Linked DNA regions of Homo sapiens. The protein of the gene in region 1 purifies or fractionates together with the protein of each later gene. This does not show direct contact. Each region holds a gene or a part of one and is shown on either strand. Other genes may lie near its edges.

Region 1 (3,909 bases):
CCCAAAAGGTGTGTCCGTGTCCTAATCCCTGTTACTGTGACCTTATTTAGCAGAAGGGCCTTTGCAAGATGTAATGAAAATAAGGATGTCAAGATGAGCTCCTCCTGGATTATCTAGGTAGGCCCTAATCCAGTGACAGGTGTGCTTATAAGAGACAGACGAGAAGACAGGGAGAAGGCCATGTAGAGACGGAGGCACAGATTGGAGTGATGGGGCCACAAGCCCAGGAAGAACTCAGGCTGCAGAAGCTGGAAGAGCAAGGAAGAACTGATCCTCTGCCAGAGCCTTTGAGGGAGCAAAGCCCTAGTGTCACCTCCATTTCAGGTGTCTGGCCTCCAGAATTGAGAGAGGATATACTTCTGCTGTTTTTAGCAACCCAATTTGTGGTCATTTGTTACAGCAGCCCCAGGAAACTAACCCAGCTGGGATGGAGAGAGGACTTGGGGAGGCTGGTGGAGGCAGGAAGTGCTGAGGAAGGAGAATGAGGCCGGACTGGGTGTGTGGGGTGGGGGTAAGAGGTGGAGACTTCCACACCATCAGGAGATCAAGGCGCCTGGGCAGAAGGGTTTAGGGAGCAGTAGCTTTTTCCTCTCCATATTGCCAGCTGTCTGAAATTGTAGCAATGATCTGAATGTATCAGAATGACTCCAGTGACTGTCACTAACTTGGGAGTGAGTACCTTTGGGGTTCTATGTCCCTAAAGCCTGATGCACCATTTCCTGCTTGTGGAAGACGCGAATGAAAAATGAGATGGTAAATACCTGAGTTCGATATTCAGCATTCATTCAGCAAACATTTATTAGGCTCCTACTGTGCGTCGCGCTGGAAAGGCAAGCAGAAGCTAGATTCCCAATCGATCCCGGGAGGCTGGACGATCCAGACACAAACACCGTTCATGCGTCTATTCGAAAAGGCCCTCTTGGAATTTTGTGCACAGCATTTCCTTGGGGTGTCGATGGATCGGGGTCTGCAAACATTAGCACCTTTTCCGGTGGCCGCTGTCTTCTCAGACCTCAGACACCGGCGCCTCCCCGTGAACTCCCGCAGGCGTCCCTAGCCCAGGGCTTGGCGGGCGCTGCCGGTTGTACCTGGCCTAAGCCACGCTGGGCCGACAGCCCGGGGCGACACCCCCTTCGGACGGCGGGGATTTGCGGCTCGGGTGACCGGAGGTGCCCTCCCGCGGGTCTCGGAGCAGCTCCGCGGGCTCTCGCTCCGCGGGGAGGAGCCTGCGTCTCCCAGGGGCGGGGCTCGAGGCGCCTAGGGGCCGGTGGACACATACCAGCCGCCCCGTGGTGTCGGCCTCTGCGCCTGCGCCTGCGCCTGCGCGCGCGGCCAGGCAGCGTCTGTGGCGCAAGCGCGCGCTCACCCTTGGGCGAGGGCCCTGAGGGGCGGGGCGGGGCGGAGGAGCGGCGGGGCGGCGAGGGGCGGGGCGGGGCGGCGAGGGGCGGGGCGGGGCGGCGAGGGGCGGGGCGGGGCGGGGCCGGACGCGGCCGGGTGGGGCGGCAGCGCCCGCCGCGAGCACCTCCAGTTCTGCCGGCTTCTGCGCGCCGGGGCCGCCTCTCCTTCCGCCGGTGCCGCGGCGCCTCATGGAAGCCCCGGAGGGCGGCGGAGGGGGGCCTGCAGCGCGGGGCCCGGAGGGGCAGCCGGCGCCCGAAGCCAGGGTGCACTTCCGAGTGGCGAGGTTCATCATGGAGGCAGGTAACCGCGGCCGGGGGAGGCCAGGACAGGCGGCGCCGCGGCCCGCTTCGCGGAGCGGGCCCGGCTGGCCAGGCCGGCCTTCTGGAGTGCTCACCGTAGCAGAGGCCGGGAAGCCCTGCTCGGGGCTGAGGACCTCCGCCTTTGCGCCGCGCCCGGTGTGCTGAGCAGTGAGCCGCGAGGTATCCCCATGGCGTGGACCGGTGTGCAGGCCCTAGGAGAGGACGTGGCCGGGTTGGGCCTCCAGCGAGGCGGAGACCGGCCCGGGCGCCCGCAGCTCTGCGCAGTGCGCCACGCCTTCTGCCGGCACCCGCGGCCCTGCACTCCGGTAGACTTTATGGCGCTTAGTCGCGCGGAGCCTTTTGGAGAACGCTGTCCGAGGGTTCCTGTCACTCCGGGGACCTAGGCTGCTTGCAGCTCCTGTTCCGAACCCTGCCAGGACATCCACAGTAGTGTTGGGCTCCGCGCTTCCCAGGCGAGGTGATTAAGCTAAGATCTCTGTAGAAACATCGTTTCCATCCAGCCATCAACAGTATTTTTTTTTTTTTCGAGACGGAGTCTCGCTCTGTTGGCCAGGCTGGAGTGCAGTGGCGTGATCTCGGCTCACTGCAACCTCCGTCTCCCGGACTAAAGCAATTATCCTTCCTCACGCTTCCGAGTAGCTGGAATTACAGGTGTGTGCCACCGTACCCGGCTAATGTTTGTATTTTTAGTAGAGACGGGGTTTCACCATGTTGGCCAGGCTGGTCTTGAACTCCTGGCCTCAGGTGATCCAGTTGCCTCGCCCTCCCAAAGTGCTGGGATTACAGGCGTGAGCTACCTCGTCCGGCCCATCAACAGTATCTTGATAGGAGATACTGTTAGTTGGCGGGTAGTTATTTCCTACCTTTACTGCTTGGGGGAGAAGGGTTGGGCAGATGTGCTTTCTACCCAAGGTGGGCGGAGAGTCTGAGGACTGCTGCAGGACTGTTCATCCCAGTGATATGTAAATTTACTGTAATTTGCAAGAAGAGTTGCAAAGTTATTATTAGGGAAGGATGGCAGTGACACCTCATCTGCTACCGTCTGCTCGGAGGGTCCGTGTAAATTGGGGTTTGCTCTGTAAAACAAAGCTTGGAAGGTCATGTCAGTAACAGCACCTTATCTGGCATCTCCTGGAATGAGGGGTCCCAGGTAGGAATTGTCTTTATATAACAAGTTTAGACCTTCTGAGGGACTTCTTTATAAAATGTATTACACAATCCTTTGTCCTTTGTAGGAGGCTAAATATTGATTTCCCAAAGATGTCCCTATCCTAATCCCTGGAACCTGTGAATGTCATCTTATATAGCAAAAGAGATTTTGAAGATGTGATTAGAGACCTTAAGATGGGAGATCATCCTAGATTATCTGGGTGTAACCACACCCATCCTTATAAGGCAAAGGCAGGAGGAGTCACCGTCAGAGAAGGCCACGTGAGGACAGAAGCAGAGTTAGAAGCTTTGAAGATGGAGGAAGGGGCCAGCAACCAAGGAATGCAGCCCTCCTCTAGAAGCTGGAAAAGGCAAGGAAACATTCTCCCATGGAGCCTCCAGAAGGAGCCAGCCCTGCTTAGACGTTGATCTTAGCTTTCTAGGCTAGTTTTGGACTTCTGACTTCCAGGATCGGAGGAGTATAAATGTGTGTTGTTTAAGTGGCTGAATTTGTGGTGATTTGTTGCAGTAGCCCTAGGGAACTGATCTACCTTCTTAGGCAGAGGATGCTGACTGTCATTTCATGGTTGATTGTCGGTTGTTCTTCGCCTTTCTGTTTTGGCCTAGTGGATGTCATTTAACCTTGTCTTGTGAACCCTGGTGGTTGTGAATTTGTTTTGGTTCTGTGCACCAGGGCAGTGATTTTCTTAGGAGCCATTCAGGGATGGGCTGGGGATGGGCTTTAACCCCTAAGTAGAATCCACTGAATCCTGCTCTGGTGTTTTGAGTTTTGTTCACCTTAAAAATTTTTTTCTTTCTCTTTTTTGTAGAGACAGGGTCTCACTCTGTTGCCTAGGCTGGTCTCGAATTCCTGGGCTCAAGCAATCCTTCTGCCTCAGCCTCCCAAAGTGCTGGGATTACAGGCGTAAACCAGCATGCCCAGCCCACTTTTCAATGTGCTGGTGTCCTTCCCTGGTGCCTGGCTGTGGCCATAAACATTGCCTTTTCTCTGCAATGCAAGTGGTTACTCTTGGCAGTCACG
Region 2 (3,809 bases), on another chromosome or scaffold:
TCCAGGAAGACTTTCCTGAGGAAGGGCCTTTTGGAAAAGGGTTTTGAAAGGTGAATAGGAGTTCACCCTTAAAGCCACACTCCTTCCACAGCATCACCACCCAGATCTCCTGAGGAGCATAACATGAGGCCCTCATATTTTAAGGAAACATGAAAAGGAGAAACAACCAGCTCCCCCAAAGCCCCTGCCTTCCTCTGCTCTGAAATTCCCATCCTCTCTCCTTTCCCCCAATAAAGGTCCAAGAGGGAACAGGAGGTGACGGAGCTGAAGAAGACTCTGGAGGAGGAGACTCGCATCCACGAGGCGGCAGTGCAGGAGCTGAGGCAGCGCCACGGCCAGGCCCTGGGGGAGCTGGCGGAGCAGCTGGAGCAGGCCCGGAGGGTGGGTTGGGGCAGGGGGACAGGGCAGGGGGGCCACGGGGAGGGCAGGGCAGGACGCGGGGTTGGAGGAGGTACCGCTGGCTGGTTCTAGGCTAGCTCATCTCCCTGGGCCCCTTTCCTCACGCATTCATGTGCATCTTTCATTCAGCAAGCATTAATGGGGTGTGGACTATGTTCCAGGAGCATTGCTGGGGAACCAGCCATGAACCCAACAACCAGCACTGCCTTCCCTTGTGGAGCTTTCCTTTTAGTGAGAGAGGCAGAGGGTAAACAATATAAACACTTTCAGTTTATATTGGGGTGATAAGTGCTATGGGGCCATAATGAACAGGAAAAAGGGATCAGAATTCTAAGGCGGGTGAGTTTTTAAGTAGAGAGGCTGTGGAGGTATTCTGCGAGAAGGTGACATCAGGGTAAAAAACTGAGGGAGTGGCCGGGCATGGTGGCTCTTGCCTGTAACTTTGGGAGGCTGAGGCAGGCAGATCACTTGAGGCCAGGAGTTCGAGACCAGCCTGGGCAACATGGTGAAACCCCATCTCTACTAAAAATACAAAAACTAGCTGGGCGTGGTGGCACACACGCCTATAGTCCCAGCTACTTGAGAGGCTGAGGCAGGAGAATCACTTGAACCCAAGAAGCAGAGGTTGAAGTGAGTCAAGATTGTACCATTCCACTCCAGCCTGGGTGACAGAGCAAGACTCTGTCTCAAAAAACAAACAAACAAACAAAAATGGGCCAGACGTGGTGGCTCATGGCTGTAATCCCAGCACTGTGGGAGGCTGAGGTGGGTGGATCACCTGAGGTCAGGAGTTCAAGACCAGCCTGGCCAACATGGCAAAATCCCATCTCTACTAAAAACACAAAAAATTAGCCGGGCGTGGTGGTGGGCGCCTGTAATCCTAGCTACTTGGGAGGCTGAGACAGGAGAATCACTTGAACCTGGGAGGCGGAGGTTGCAGTGAGCAGAGATCGTGCCTTTGCACTCCAGCTTGGGCAACAAGACTGAAGCACTGTCTCAAAAAAAAAAAAAAAATTGGGAGTGAGGGGTGAGCTATTTGTTCACTGGGAGAAGTGTGTTCCAGGCAGAGGGAACAGCCAGTGCAAAGGCCCTGAGATGGGAGTGTGCCTGGCCTGGTCCAGGAAAGGCCTCATAGATCTTTGCTCATCTCCTTCCCACACCAGGGCAAAGGTGCATGGGAGAAGACCCGGCTGGCCCTGGAGGCCGAGGTGTCCGAGCTGCGGGCAGAACTGAGCAGCCTGCAGACTGCACGTCAGGAGGGTGAGCAGCGGAGGCGCCGCCTGGAGTTACAGCTGCAGGAGGTGCAGGGCCGGGCTGGTGATGGGGAGAGGGCACGAGCGGAGGCTGCTGAGAAGCTGCAGCGAGCCCAGGTAAGTGGGGTGGGCAGGGCAGAGGTTTCTGCTGTGTGACCTTGGTGACATGCCTGCCCTCTCTGGGCTTCTATTTGGTCCATATCAAACCAATTGTCTCGTTTGGCTCTTCCAACATAATCATGTACAAGTCTGGGCACAGTGGCTCATGTCTGTAATTCTAGCACTTGGGAGGCCAAGGCAGGAGGATTGCTTGAGCCCAGGAGTTCGAGACCAGCCTGGGCAACATAGTGAGACCCCATCTTCAGAAAAAAAAAAATTTTAATTAGCCAGGTATGCTGGCATGTGCCTGTAGTCCCAGCTACTCAGGGGACTGAGGAAGGAGGATCCCTTGAGCCTGGGAGGTCGAGGCTGCAATGAGCTGTGATTGTGCCACTGCACTCTAGCCTGGGCAACAAAGTGAGATCCTGTCTCAAAATAATAATAATAATACCCAGTACTTTGGGAGGCCGAGGCGGGCAGATCACCTGAAGTCAGAAGTTCGAGACCGGCCTCACCAACATGGAGAAACCCTGTCTCTACTAAAAAAAAAAAAAAAAAAACACAAAATTAGCCGGGCGTGATGGCGCATGCCTGTAATCCCAGCTACTCGAGAGGCTGAGGCAGGAGAATCACTTGAACCCGGGAGGCAGAGGTTGTGATGAGCTGAGACCGCGCCATTGCGTTCCAGCCTGGGCAGCGAGAGTGAAACTCCATCTCCAATAATAATAATAATAATTCACTCATTTAAGATGTGCAATTCAATGGATTTTGGTATATTCACAGAGTGGTATGGCCATCACCATAATCTAATTTTGGACCATTTTCATTATCCCAAAAAGAAAATCCTATACCCTTTAGCTATCATCCCCCACTTCTCCCCCACCCCACCCAGGGAACCACTAATCTCCTTTCTGTCTTTACTGATCTCCCATTCTGGAGATCTTATATAAATGGAATCCTACTATATATGGGTGGCCTTTGTGGCTGCCTTCTTTTACTTAACATAACGGTTTCAAGATTCATCTGTGTTGCAGCTCGTAGCATAATTCCTTTTTTATTTTTTAATTTTTAAAACACCAGCTGGGTGCAGTGGCTCATGCCTGTAATCCCAGCACTTTGGCAGCGGAGGCGGGTGGGTCACCTGAGGTCAGGAGTTCAAGACCAGCTGCCTGACCAACATGGTGAAACTTCGTCTCTACTAAAAATACAAAATTAGCCGGGTGTGGTGGCGCATGCCTGTAATCCTAGCTACTTGGGAGGCTAAGGCAGGAGAATCACTTGCACCTGGGAGGCGGAGGTTGCAGTGAGCCGAGATTGCACCATTGCGCTCTAGCCTGGGCAACAAGAGTGAAACTCTGTCTCAAAAAAACCCCAAAAAACAACAGCACGCAATAGATCCATATACCTTTCTATTGCCGAATAATGCCCGTTGTATGGATATTCCACATTTGTTTATCCATTCGTTTATTGATGGACATTGGGGCTGTTCCCGCCTCTTGGCGATGGTGAGTAATGCCACTGAGAACATTCCGGTACGAGTTTCTGCATAGACCTATGCGTTCATTTCTTTTGGGTATGCACCTAGGAGCGGGATTGTTGGGTCATGTGGGAACCCTATGTTTAAGCATCTGTGGATCTGCCAGACTGTTTTCCACGGCAGCTGTAACATTTCACATTCCTGCCAGTGTGGTAGAGAGTTGAGGCAGATGGGGTCACTGGGTGGAAGCCACGATTGGAGGGCTTCATTCCCGTCCCTTCCCTGCAGGCTGAACTGGAGAATGTGTCTGGGGCGCTGAACGAGGCTGAGTCCAAAACCATCCGTCTTAGCAAGGAGCTGAGCAGCACAGAAGCCCAGCTGCACGATGCCCAGGTGACCCTGCCTGCCCTTCGGCTCCACCGTCACCCTCCCCTCCTTGTCCTCCCAGCCACACCTGACATTGCCGTCTCCTCCATCTACAGGAGCTGCTGCAGGAGGAGACCAGGGCGAAATTGGCCTTGGGGTCCCGGGTGCGAGCCATGGAGGCTGAGGCAGCCGGGCTGCGTGAGCAGCTGGAGGAG

What was found.
Region 2: the proteins of CCNQ (region 1) and MYH14 purify together in Homo sapiens (affinity purification with mass spectrometry, with the first as the bait; one large-scale study listed by BioGRID). This does not show direct contact.

Annotation. Positions count from the first base shown.
Region 1 is NC_000023.11:153,596,751-153,600,659, reverse strand, and holds the start of CCNQ (cyclin-Q), read left to right. Parts: upstream 1-1,520; 5' UTR 1,521-1,586; coding exon 1,587-1,698; intron 1,699-2,497; exon of another isoform or gene 2,498-3,238; intron 3,239-3,909. UniProt on the Homo sapiens protein: Activating cyclin for the cyclin-associated kinase CDK10.
Region 2 is NC_000019.10:50,276,521-50,280,329, forward strand, and holds part of MYH14 (myosin-14), read left to right. Parts: intron 1-236; coding exon 237-381; intron 382-1,562; coding exon 1,563-1,769; intron 1,770-3,516; coding exon 3,517-3,621; intron 3,622-3,710; coding exon 3,711-3,809. UniProt on the Homo sapiens protein: Cellular myosin that appears to play a role in cytokinesis, cell shape, and specialized functions such as secretion and capping.